Homo sapiens: one gene and its partner. The protein of the gene in region 2 binds, or shares a complex with, the protein of the main gene of each other region. Each region holds a gene or a part of one and is shown on either strand. Other genes may lie near its edges. The genes, in order: SPTSSA and SPTLC1.

Region 1 (7,370 bases), on a different chromosome or scaffold from region 2:
GGCGTCCACCACCACACTCGGCCCACAACTTCAAATTTTTAAAAATGCATTATATAGCAGGAAATGTAAACTAATGCATCTATCCTCTTTAAGAAATTAATCTGGGCCAGGCGCGGTGGCTCACACCTGTAATCCCAGCACTTTTGGGAGGCCAAGGCAGGCGGATCACTTGAGGTCAGGAGTTTGAGACCAGACTGGCCAACATGGTAAAACCACCCCACCCCCACCCCACCCCCAACTCCGCCTCTATTAAAAATACAAAAATTAGCTGGGCGTGGTGGTGGGCACCTGTAATCCCAGCTACCTCAGAAGGCTGAGGCAGGAGAATCGCTTGAATCCGGGATGCAAAGTTGCAGTGAGCCAAGATTGCACCACCACACTCCAGCCTCGGCAACAGAGCGAGACACCGTCTCAAAAAAAAAAAAAGAAAAAGAAAAAGAAGAAAATTAATCTGGCCAGGCGTGGTAGCTCATGCCTGTAATCCCAGCATTTTGGGAGGCTGCAGTGGGCAGATCACTTGAGGTCAGGAGTTCGAGACCAGCCTGGCCAACATGGCGAAACCCCATCTCTACTAAAAATACAAAAATTAGCCAGGCGTGGTGGCAGGCACCTGTAATCCCGGCTATTCTGGAGGCTGAGGCAGGAGAATCGCTTGAACCTGGGAGGCGGAGGTTGCAGTGAGCCAAGATGGCGACATTACACTCCAGCCGGGCAACAAGAACAAAACACTGTCTCACACACACACACACAAAGAAAAGAAATCAATCTGAAGTCTTCCTCTGTTCAGGACTTCTAACTCAGAGACAAATTTTCAGACAGGCAGAGGCAAATTTCTCTAAATTTTAGGTTTCTAGGATTGATGATTAAGTTGAATGTAATGTTTAAGCTGTAGAAAGTATGCCTCTTTCCAAAAGCCTGTAGCTGGCCACAGATTAGTTCTGGGTGAAGCTTACTAATCATTAATGGATTTATGAAATTCAAACTACTTCAGAGTAAGCCTCCTGACAAGTAGGGAAAAAAATCCAGTTTTCTCATTCAGTTCTTTCCACCAAGCTAAAATGAGGATTCAATCTCAAATTGATGTTCCAAACTATCAGATAGTTTTAAATGATTCTAGAAGTTGAAGTGGAAAAATATAAATACAACAGCTGATAGTAATTCAAGACTGGCTTATGTCAAACAATTGCATTTCTAACCTGAGTTAATTCAATAACGTGAAATTTGAAATAAGATTTTTTTATCTTAAGTTTAAAATCATAAGGTTCTATAATATTGGATGTCAGTTGGTTGCAGTTCTCACCTATTTGAAAAAAAAATTGAAACTACTTGTCGCTAAACCATGGTAACTCAAAAACATTAAAGGCAAATATCTACTAAGGCACTATATTTCATTTCATAATTTATTTCTCCATCCCCCAAAAAAGGCATCACCTAGTTATTTATAGGACACTATCACTATTGCAACATAACAGAAAAATCTTAACATCATTGATAACTGTAGCATTTTAGTGTGTAAAATCTATATTAGATTTTAGGTGTCAAATCTATACTAGATTCTAATAGTGCACTCTACATTCAACCTCTGATTTAAAGAGTTTCATTTTAACCCAGCATTGTTTAAATTAATTTTAGGATGTGTTATGTCAGTCAAGATATACTTGCTTCTACTGAGAGACTTCTATTAAATATGCATTCAAGTATATATTTTACAAGGCATGACCTTGCGAGCCCTAAAGAGTGAGACTAAACTGCAGCTACAAATAAATGGTGCAGGAAATCAAAGCAAACTATATTCAGAGTCTAAATCCAAAATATGCATTCTGGTTCTTAAATTCCAGGTTTGGAAAGAAATGCCAACAGTAATAAATAAATAAACTGCTTTGAAAGCATCTCAAATTCCTCAAAAGTGCTTAAACAAAAGACTCAGCTTTGAGTACAACCTTAAGCTATCTCAAAACAAATAAACACACTTGATAAGGCTTAGAATGAAATTACCTCAGTCACTCACTGGAATGCAACAATGCATTCGCAAAGTTATTCTGAAGTAAGCTACTCCAACTAAACCACACTGAAAAGGAGAGAACGTGGATAAACTAAACATGTTTTGTGAAATACCTGTTTTGTATTGGCCTGAGTTTTTTAAAAGTTACATCTCATTCATTATCAGTATTTAATCTGCAAGAATATCATCAAAGGATGTCAATATGGACAAGCAGAGACAAGAAACATCAGACTTTCAGGGAGCCTATCTTCACAACCCTGAGTTATTAACTGAAGTTCTCAAAGTTAGATGAGTTAAGATACAGACAACGTGCTTTGCACAAATGCTTTGCTTATAGTAACCACTCAATAGTCATTAACAAGAATTTATTAACTATCCACCAAAACACAGTTTCAAACCCTACCGACAACTAACCACAAATTGCACCACTTTTCGGGCCGACTTCTACGGACGGTGCACAGAAGCAATAAATACACTTTTAAAACTCCCCAACTTGAAGACCAAAAAGATACAATAACTTAAACTGCTTTCAAAAACTACTGGAGTGTCATGCCTACAAATTCAGAACCTGGCTTAAAAGCTAGTTAACTGACTAGAATTCTTGGTAGACCCAAAGCCAACTAAATCAGGAACACTTAAAGGTCAAAGGCGTCCAAGCCGGGAGCGATGTGCTCCACTGTTACATGATCCCCGCCTCCTACAGGAACAGGGGACTGAACCAAAGGCAGTTGCGGCCGAAGTGCAGGCGACACACAGGGTTACACATCACCTTCGGAGATTTCCTCCAGGAATCAAGACGCTTCCCCCTTGGGTCCAGCGACTCACAGGTGACCCCGGATCTCAAGAGTTCTCGTCTCCCCCACCCCCCACTTAACCCCGCGAGCGCCGCCCTCGGCCCCCAGACCTCCCCCTGCACCCCCGGCTTCCGCGCACAGGACCGGCGGGGCCGCCGCTCCAGCCTCCACCCCAGGCCCGGGGCCTGGGGAAATGCGGCCCCGCGGCCCGCGCCCCCAGCCCGGCCCCCGCGCGCGCGGCCGGGACAGGATACTGAACACCGTCCGCTCCCAGGGCTCCAGCATGTAGAGCGCCGTGACCAGCAGGTACTGGTAGTAGAACCAGGACATCTGCTTCCAGGCCCGCGCCAGCGCCATCCCCGCCATGCGCCTCCCGCGATGCAGCTCACACGTCAGTCTGTCCGGCCGGCCGCCCGCTCACGTCCTAAAGCCCCCGGCCGCCAGGCCCGCCCGCCCGCCACCCAGCGCCCATTGGCCCGCCCGGCCCCGCCGTCACCCGCGGCACGCCCAGACCCGCGCGCGCCCCGGCCGCCGGCCCCCAGCCCCGCCCGACCCGCGCTCATTGGCCAGGCCGCTACCTCGCGTCGCGTCGTCCCCTCCCGTTTCCCCGCCCGGGCATCGCCCACGCTAGCCGGAGAACGGTCCCCGCGAGAGCGCCCAGCCGCGCCCCACCCCGCCCGGGCCGGCCGGTGGTGGGCGGGGCGTCAGTGCCGGCCGGGGTCCCGGGGCCCCCGCAGCCCAGCGGGCGCTCGGTCCGTCCAGACTGGCCCAGAGCGCTTGCGGAAGAAATATTTCTGGAACACTTGTTATGCCTCAGGCATCCTTCTGAGAAGGAGGATTGCCAGGGAGAACCGGAATGCCTTCGGTTCCTTACCTTGTGCAGCTGGCGGCCTAGCTGGGAGACAAGCATTAATCAAGTCGTGATCCGTGTAAGAGGAGATAAGGGGCTGAGAGAGGGTGAGGAGGCGAACGCCACCTAATAAGGAGGTCTGGAAAGGCGTCCTTGTAGAAGGGATGCACATTCGGCCTCCTTCCTCCCTTCCCCCACCCATGCACACACACACACACACACACACACACACACACACACACACACACACCCCTAGACGGACATAACCCATGCACTCCCTAACCCAGAGACCACTTACCAAAAACATCTATCTGCCCACCTCTTAGTGGCTGTAGGTAACCACCAAGTGGGTCAAGGCCAGAAGCGCGCTGATCTAGTGGGTTCTGCAGAAGACAGGCAGCTTGAGATTGGTGTGAGGGCTGGTGATACTTCCCTAGAGATGCACTCCTGGATGCCCAGATTTTCCCACTGCCAGATGGGCCAGCAACATTGCACTGGCCACAAGGAGCTCCATGCACTGGTGTAGCATGTGAACTGCCACAATTAAATGGCCTGCTGTTTAAATGTTAAAAGTCTTCCAGGTTAAACATACTACTGCTTAAACTTTAAAAGTTTCATGGTTAATAACTATTCATTAAAAGTACCAAGTGCCGGCCAAGCGCCGTAGCTCATGCCTGTAATCCAAGCACTTTGGGAGGCTGAGGCTGGCGGATCACTTGAGTCCAGAAGGTCGAGACCAGCCTGAGCAACATGGTGAAACCCCGTCTCTACCAAAAAAAATAAGTAAATACATAACAAAAAGTTAGCCAGGGGTGGTGGCGTGCACCTGTAGTCCCAGCTACTCAGGAGGTTGAGGCGGGAGGATTGCTCGAGCACGGGAGGTCGAGGTTGCAGTGAGCCAGGATGGTGCCACTGCACTCCATCTTAGGTGGCAGAGCAAAAGAAAGGAAAGAAAGGAGACAGAGAAAGAGAGGAGAAAACAGAAGAGAAGAGAAGAAAAGAAAGAAAACAGTAAGTAATATCAAGTGCCAGACATTGGGATAGCAAGCCAGATAGACTGAGACCTGCCTTCATAAAGTACCCAGTCTGCTGGGGAAGAGAGGCAAGTTAATGGATTACAGTGAGGTGTGGTAAATGATATTTTTGTGGATCGTATCCTTTAGGATACCAAGATAGCCCAGACAAAATCAGATTGGGCTTGTGAAAGTCTTCTGAGAAATGGTGCTTGAACTGAGTGTTGAAGGACAAGCAGAAATGGAAGAATGAATGAGCTTGGGGAAGAGAGGGTGAGACAGACATTCTAAGGATGAAGTTGTGATGTTTTTAGAAGACTGGAAGAACTTCCATGTGGCTGGAGCAAAAAGAATGTATATGCAGTAGCAAGAGATGGGCCTAGACAGCAAACAGGGACCATATTCTGAAGGACCTTGTTTGAGAAGCTAAGAAATTTTTAACTTGATGTCCAAAAGTTACTGGAGCCAACAACTTAAATAAGATTTTCTTTCAGGGCTGGGTGTGGTGGCTCACACCTATAATCCCAGCACTTTGGGAGTCCAAGGCGGGTGGATCACATGAGGTCAGGAGTTCCAGACCAGCCTGGCCAACATGGTGAAACCCCGTCTCTACTAAAAATATAAAAAATTAGCCGGGCGTGATGGTGGGTGCCTGTAATCCCAACTATTTGGGAGGCTGAGGCAGGAGAATCGCTTGAACCCGGGAGGCGGAGGTCGTAGTGAGCTGAGATCACACCATTGCACTCCAGCCTGGGCAACAAGAGCAAGACTCCGTTTAAAAAAAAAAAATGCTTTCGGAACAAGACTTGGGTGTGGGTAGTAGCCTGGAGGCTACCGAGGGAAAAAACAGGTTGGGAAGACATTACAAAGGTAGAACCCACAAATACTTGAAACCTCCTTACCCCTCAGAGATGCAGGTACACGTGCCCTCCTACTTTCAAACTTAACTGTTTTGGACTTCTTTCTGTCCCTGTTCCTGTTCAGGCACAGGCAAGCTCATTCCTTTTTCCTCGAGAACTCCAACTACCCTCAGCATCTGGTGATGCTACATAAAATTCATCCAAGATTGGAAGCATCACCCGTAGCCACCCTTCCTTTACTGGGTCCACTCCCTAGCACCATGTCTGCCAGGTGGTTGTCCTCACTGTTAGTAGCTCCCAATCCACTGCGTGTCTCTCGGAGACCAGCTCTACCACCTCATCTCACTAAAGTTGGTGACTGACTAGAAATGAGGAAAAGAGGCTGAGATCCTGGATGATGACAATACAAAGAAACCGAAGGAAGACGTTTGGCTGAAAAGATATTGATTTTGTTAGGATGAAGCTATGTCTGAGGTACCTGAGGGACACTTAAATGGAGGTGTCCAGGGGACAATTGAGCACATGGTTTGGAACTCAGAAGTGAAGCCTGAATGGAACTAGAGGCATATGAATTTTCAATATGTCCCTGGTCATTGAAGCCAGAAGAGCAGATGAGGTCACCCAAGGAAAGCACATAGAATGGGAAGAGCAGGGTACAGAATAAACCCAGAGATTCTGGCATTTGGCCAATGAGAGTCCAAAGGAAGCCAATACAGGGAAGGAGCTACCTGAGATTTGACAGCAATGAGGAGAGACATACAGGAGAAGCTAATGGAGGAAGGGATAGCCAGCAGAACAAATGGCTCAGGGAGGATAAGCAAAATAAGGAAGGGAAGCGCCAATTTGTTTTGTCCACATGGGGCTAGATTGATGACTCAGCATTTCATTGTGGAATGATGATAGGACAGAAGCCGGATTATAGAAGGCTGAGGAGAGAACAGGAAGTAAAACAATGAGGACAGTTAATTCAGGCTTAGTTTTGCAGGAAGCTTGCCTGTGAAGGGAAGGAGATAGAATGGTGGCAAGGGTTTCAGTTTGGTTTCATTTTCAGATGGGAAAGGAGTAAGCAAGTTTATGGGCTTAGAGTAAAGATATGGATAAAGATGGTGGGCTGGGGGACCAGATCCAAAGCCTTAATAAACAGGAACTGGTAGCTCTTTCCCCAAGAGGAGGAGGATGGAAAGATGGGAGCCAGATGGACATAAACACAGACAAGTAAGTTAAGGAACTCCCTACCTTACAACATCAGTTTTCTTAGTGAAAAAATAAAGGCCTCTTGTTGAGAGTGAGCAAGATGTTGAAGAGTGGAGGGTATGAAAAAGAAAAAGGGAGATGGGAGAAGTTTCCTAAAGCTGCCTAAGGATTGTCAGGCAGAAAAACCATACAGTTTTTACCAACAATACACAAGTACCGAGTATATATAGAACTAGAGAAGTTGAATTAGGAGACTTCCTCCAAGGCAGGGTTTGCTGGATGGATACAATGGAGAAACAAGCAAGAAGGTTGATGGAGAGAGAATAATTGAAATAATGACTAGGAGAATTAGGTCACGGAGGGAAGTAAATGATGAAAAGATAAAATGGAGTAGTCCAGAGCTGTGTGAGGTTGGAAACTGTAGGAGTAGGTGCATGGGAAAGAGTCTATGTTGGAGGAGGAGGGCCACGGCTGTGCTTCTGAAGCTTAGGAGTACAGAAATAGGCCAGTCTTAGACAATGACCAGGCACAGGTTGTGACCATGGGATAGGCAGCTAAAGTGGAGTGGAGGGGATAGTAAAGACCACAGGAAAGATAAAGTTGTCCAGGATGATGGCAGAACTAAGTGTCGAGAGGAAAAGTCTGTAAAGCAAATGT
Region 2 (5,055 bases):
TGCTATTTTTTTTTAATATAACTCACATACCACATACCATAAAATTCACCCTATTGAAGTATATCGTTAAGTGGCTTTTAGTATCATACATTCAGCAGGTTGTGCAACCATTACTATCTCATTCCAAAACTTTTTCATCACTCCAGAAAGAAACCCCTGTAGCCTATTACCTTGCTCTGGTGTTTGTGCTTTCTTTATTTTAGTAGAGATTGTTTTCATTTTTTCTTAATGTTGACAGATGGTTAATATATAGGAAAGCTGGGTAAAACTTTGTTAACGCCAGATTCTGCAGTGCCCAGTGGCACCATGCCCAGATGCCACATGTGGACATCGTTTTTGCTAATATCTGAAGTGCAGTGGTTTTTCTCTGACGCAGTTCTACTGGTGGTGGTGGTCATAAGTCCAGCCTGCAGGACTTTGCTCGCACCACTTCCTCATGTGCTAACTCTGCTTTGTCTAAATGGTAGTCACTAGCTAGCTATGGCTGTTTGAATTTAAACTAAGTGGAAATAAGAAAAGGTGCAACTGTGACCTCTCAGTAGCACCAGCCATATCTCCGTGTGCTCAGCAGGCACACAGGGCTCATGGCGACTGCTGGGCACTACACAACAGAGGTATTTGTCATTGCAGAAAGTTCTGTGGACAGTGCTGCCAAGGTGGTGGTGTAGTATTTTGGTGATATCTTCTAGCAATTATAATTGGAAAAGTGAATTAAAGCTACCGTTGCAGGATTTCAGCGTTCCCCCAGTTTAATTACCACCATGTCTGAAGTCCAGGTTGCAGATGTCTTCTTTTTCTTCCTACAGTGCATGAACAGAAGTATTGCATTAACTCAGGCGCGCTACTTGGAGAAAGAAGAGAAGTGTCTCCCTCCTCCCAGGTCAGTTGACGTTAAAATATGACCTTATTTTTTTCCCCTACTCTGAGCTCTATGAAATACGTTATCTTTTGAAAAATTTTGAAAGACTATCATAGGCTATGGAAGAATATCTGTCATTAAAATATAGTACATTACCTGTCTTCTGCTCTTAAACTAGAAGTTTCTAAAATTTTAACTGAAAAGCTCCCAAGGACTCACTGAGTACCCTCTCAGTTAACTCAGAGAAATGTCTGGGAGCCCAGCAATGAACTTGGGCAAACTGAGTTTCCATCAGCTCATATCTGCCACATCTGAAAGGTGGCACATGCCACACCAGGAGTTCCTGCCACAAGGACCGTCCTGCAGGGAAGATCGGCAGTGTGGGGTGGGGGTGGGCATGCGCCTCTGCTGCTCCTTCAGTCAGCAACACTCAGTAACATTTGAGAAAAAACAAGCAACAGTGGGGAAAATGTACAGCATCAAGAAAAAACACCAAAAGTGAAAGACTAATGTCTTACTTTTAAGGAGACTGGATTCTGTTCACAAAGCATATACGAGGTAGTCCAAGGAGTTGGCCATCCCACCACAGCACTGGGCCAGGCAGTCACAGCAGGGGGCATGGACATGGTCAGTTCTGCCCTGGGGCATTGCTCAGGCTTTTGAGAGCAGGCGATGTCTACACCAAAACTAGAGAAGTGTGTGTGTCGGGCATCCTGTGGGCATCGTGGCTTTCCATCAGATGAGGTGGTGTGTGCTTTGCTCAGGGTTTTCAGTGGCTTGGAGACCTCCAGGTTCATCTGGGAGTACAGAGTGCAAGCCGCAGAAGAGCTGGAGAGAAGGGTCCTGAGGCCAGGTGCCAAGTCAGGGAGGCTGCAGGAGAGCCCACTGGGGAGTTTGAATGCTCTGCCGGCCCACAGTGCCAGACCAGGATTTGGAAGATCACTCTGGTAGCAGCTCAAAGCACCTTAAGGAGCCTGCCCTTTTCAGCCAGGTGCAGTGGCCCACACCTGTAACCTCAACACCTGGGAGACCGAGGTGGGCAGATCACTTGAGCCCAGGAGTACAAGACCAGCCTGGGCAACATGGTGAAACCCCATCTCTGTAAAAATTAGCCAGGCATAGTGGTGCACGCCTGTGGTCCCAGCTACTTGGGAGGCTGAGGTGGGAAAATCACCTGGTTCCAGGAGGTCAAGGCTGCAGTGAGCTGAGATCACTCCATTGCACTCCAGCCTGGGCTGCCCCCTTCATTTTTTATTGCACTCATCCAAAGGTGTAATCCTACATCCTACGTTTACTTGTTAGTAAGACCGTAGGTGCATGAGGACGGGAGCCGTGCTGGTTTTGTGCCCTCAGGACTCCATGCACAGCATAGTACAGCTCAATAAATATGTGTCAAATGCATGAAACAGATGTTTACAGATGAACTCTGGGGGACAGAGGTAGCATTGTCCTTTCAAGCTATTATTTCTTTGATTTCCTGAAAACTTGAAAATTTCTGCCATGCCTTAGAGTATTACAGAGCTTTCACATTGCTATTGACATAAATACGAACAATCAAACTGTCGTTGATTTGAGAAGGATGGAATTCCTGCTTTGTGCCTGGCACTGCCTGAAGCAGTACATGATGGACAGGATGCTATTTCCCAGCTTCTGAGGCAGAGCCCACGGAAACTCACTCTGACTGGGTGTGCACTGGTGTGGTGTAGGCCGAGGCCTTCAGGCTGCAGATTCCCTGCCGCAGCAACCCACCTGCCACAGTAGTGAGAAAGTGACTGTGGGCAGCAGGTACATGAATAGACAGGCCTATTGGGAGGACTGCCAGGAGAGGTTTGTTTACAAAAATAGGCAGTGGATTTGGCTCTCAGGCCATATATGGTTGACTGTGAGTGCAGTTCCTCACCTCACATAGATAATTCTTTTTTCTGTTTGTTTGTTTTTGGTTTTTTTTTTTTTTTGAGACAGAGTCTCACTCTGTTGCCCAGGCTGGAGTGCAATGGCGCGATCTCGGCTCACTGCTAGCTCCGCCTCCCAGGTTCACGCCATTCTCCTGCCTCAGCCTCCCAAGTAGCTGGGACTACAGGCACCCGCCACCACACTGGCTAATTTTTTGGTATTTTTAGCAGAGATGGGGTTTCACTGTGTTAGCCAGGATGGTCTCGATCTCCTGACCTCGTGATCCACCTGCCTTGGCCTCCAAAGTGCTGGGATTACAGGCGTGAGCCACTGCGCCTGGCCCACAAAGATAATTCTTTGTGTCCTTTACTGTTCTCAGCATTCGGGTTGTGGTCACGGTGGAACAAACAGAGGAAGAACTGGAGAGAGCTGCGTCCACCATCAAGGAGGTAGCCCAGGCCGTCCTGCTCTAGGCAGAGTCCCGGGACCATGGCCTCCTGCCACACAACACGCAGAGAGGACTCAAGACTCCCGCTGGCCATGGAGTGGCCTGAAAGAGAGCAAGAACATGTGGATCTTTGATAGGATTGTTACCAAATGGTGTCAGTATGGACCAATTGTGTGACCATGAGAAGGATGCTTATTTTTTTTAAAAAGAAAACACATCTAAAAGCCCAGGAACTGATTTTTTTAAGAGGAAAACTAATGACAGTGTATAACTGATGTTTAAATTGTGCATTTAGTACTATTTAAATGTTTTCTTATACTAGTATTTTATATTCTTTTGTTGTCGTTTAAAACTGGAGCTTCAGTGTCTCTTCCCTCCCTCTAATAGTAATGGTTCAGTAAGCACTCCTTAACTCCTTAGTATTTCATAGAAAAATGACTGCAACATTAAAGCTAAGAGGAACACTTCAACATATGTGGTACAAATTTATATTGAAGATCTAAATAAACCACGTATTTTCCAGTCTTCGTTGTGTGAAGCTAAATGGTGGCTAAAAGGAACACTTTTTGTGTGATTATTATAAACTTTGCATTGTATTTGAATCTTAGAACTTTTGTACACACTAAATATTGATGTCACACCATTTCTAATCTGAGCATCCTTAGCCAGAGAATATTCATTATACTTCCTAAGTGAGCAATAATTTAAATCAGAAGCTATTTTATTTTAATGTAATTAACCTTTCTTTACATTTCTTATGTGTTCACCTCTAATCTGTTTTAGGAAGAGAGTTGGTTATTATGTTGATCCCATAATATAAATCATATCCTTTATATTTTAGAATATCTCAAATGTATTCCTTTTTTGTATGGTGGGTTTGCCTAGGGACGTGTAACTACAGGCTTTTACTAAGCCAAGGAAAAAGAGAATTTTTCTTTTCATCTTACAAATTCCAGATATCTACAAAAGATGTGAAAGCACTAAAAATACCATTTTTAAGCAGTACTTTACCTGTTTTTTCTTTAGCAAACCAGGTTATGTGGTGTAAAGGTTTGTTATACGTGCCACAATATAGCATATAAATATTATGCCATCATTCCTTCTCTTGTTAAAGGTAGAAGAATAAAATTGTGATTTTTATAACCTGTGCTTATTACTCAAATGGTCTTCAACATCTTTTTAAACAACACATACTTTTTGAATGTTCAGTTTCTATTTTGCTTGAGGTATTTTGTACATATGTGCCTTGTGATTGCTGCTGCTTTAAAGGATAAAGTACTCTTTGGGGGATGAGTCTGGTTTGTTTTGTTTTATTTTTTAATGAAATAAACCTATATTCCTGATTATTAGTCTATTTGCATATGTAATATATCCAACAGAATAGTCTCTTAATTTTAACTTTTTTGCACTGGGGTAGTATTCTTTGTTGTTTGGTCTTATTTTAGAAAATAACAATTAAATTTCTTAGTTCCTTTTTTCACATCCAACCAAAGAATATATAGTATCTGAAGTTTCCTAGGTTCTTGCTGACCTCATAGGACTACAAAAATATCATGGCCATTATTTTCATAAATAACTGTTCAGCTTCTTTTAGAATACTTTCTAAGTGAAAATAGCAACATCAAAATAATGTTTGTAATAAACTTTTTGAAAATATGATCAGGAGTTTCTGGGAAAGATGGCGGATCAGGCACATTATTTCAGTCCTTAAAACCAACATTGTAAACGAAAGGAACCAAAAGTAAAATTTTTGTGTTAAAATTATAGAGTGACCACAATCCAGTAATATACACCACGATGAAATGTCTACTAGAAACAGTAAAATTTGGATCAAACTGAAGCAAAATGCTGAGAA

The links.
Region 1: SPTLC1 (region 2) and SPTSSA share a complex: the UniProt entries of both Homo sapiens proteins name them as parts of the serine palmitoyltransferase (SPT) complex.

What each region holds. Positions count from the first base shown.
Region 1 is NC_000014.9:34,459,046-34,466,415, forward strand, and holds the start of SPTSSA (serine palmitoyltransferase small subunit A), read right to left. Parts: upstream 3,196-7,370; 5' UTR 3,163-3,195; coding exon 3,051-3,162; intron 1-3,050. UniProt on the Homo sapiens protein: Component of the serine palmitoyltransferase multisubunit enzyme (SPT) that catalyzes the initial and rate-limiting step in sphingolipid biosynthesis by condensing L-serine and activated acyl-CoA (most commonly palmitoyl-CoA) to form long-chain bases.
Region 2 is NC_000009.12:92,030,635-92,035,689, reverse strand, and holds the end of SPTLC1 (serine palmitoyltransferase 1), read left to right. Parts: intron 1-806; coding exon 807-880; intron 881-3,131; coding exon 3,132-3,225; coding exon of another isoform or gene 3,226-3,377; 3' UTR 3,378-4,543; downstream 4,544-5,055. UniProt on the Homo sapiens protein: Component of the serine palmitoyltransferase multisubunit enzyme (SPT) that catalyzes the initial and rate-limiting step in sphingolipid biosynthesis by condensing L-serine and activated acyl-CoA (most commonly palmitoyl-CoA) to form long-chain bases.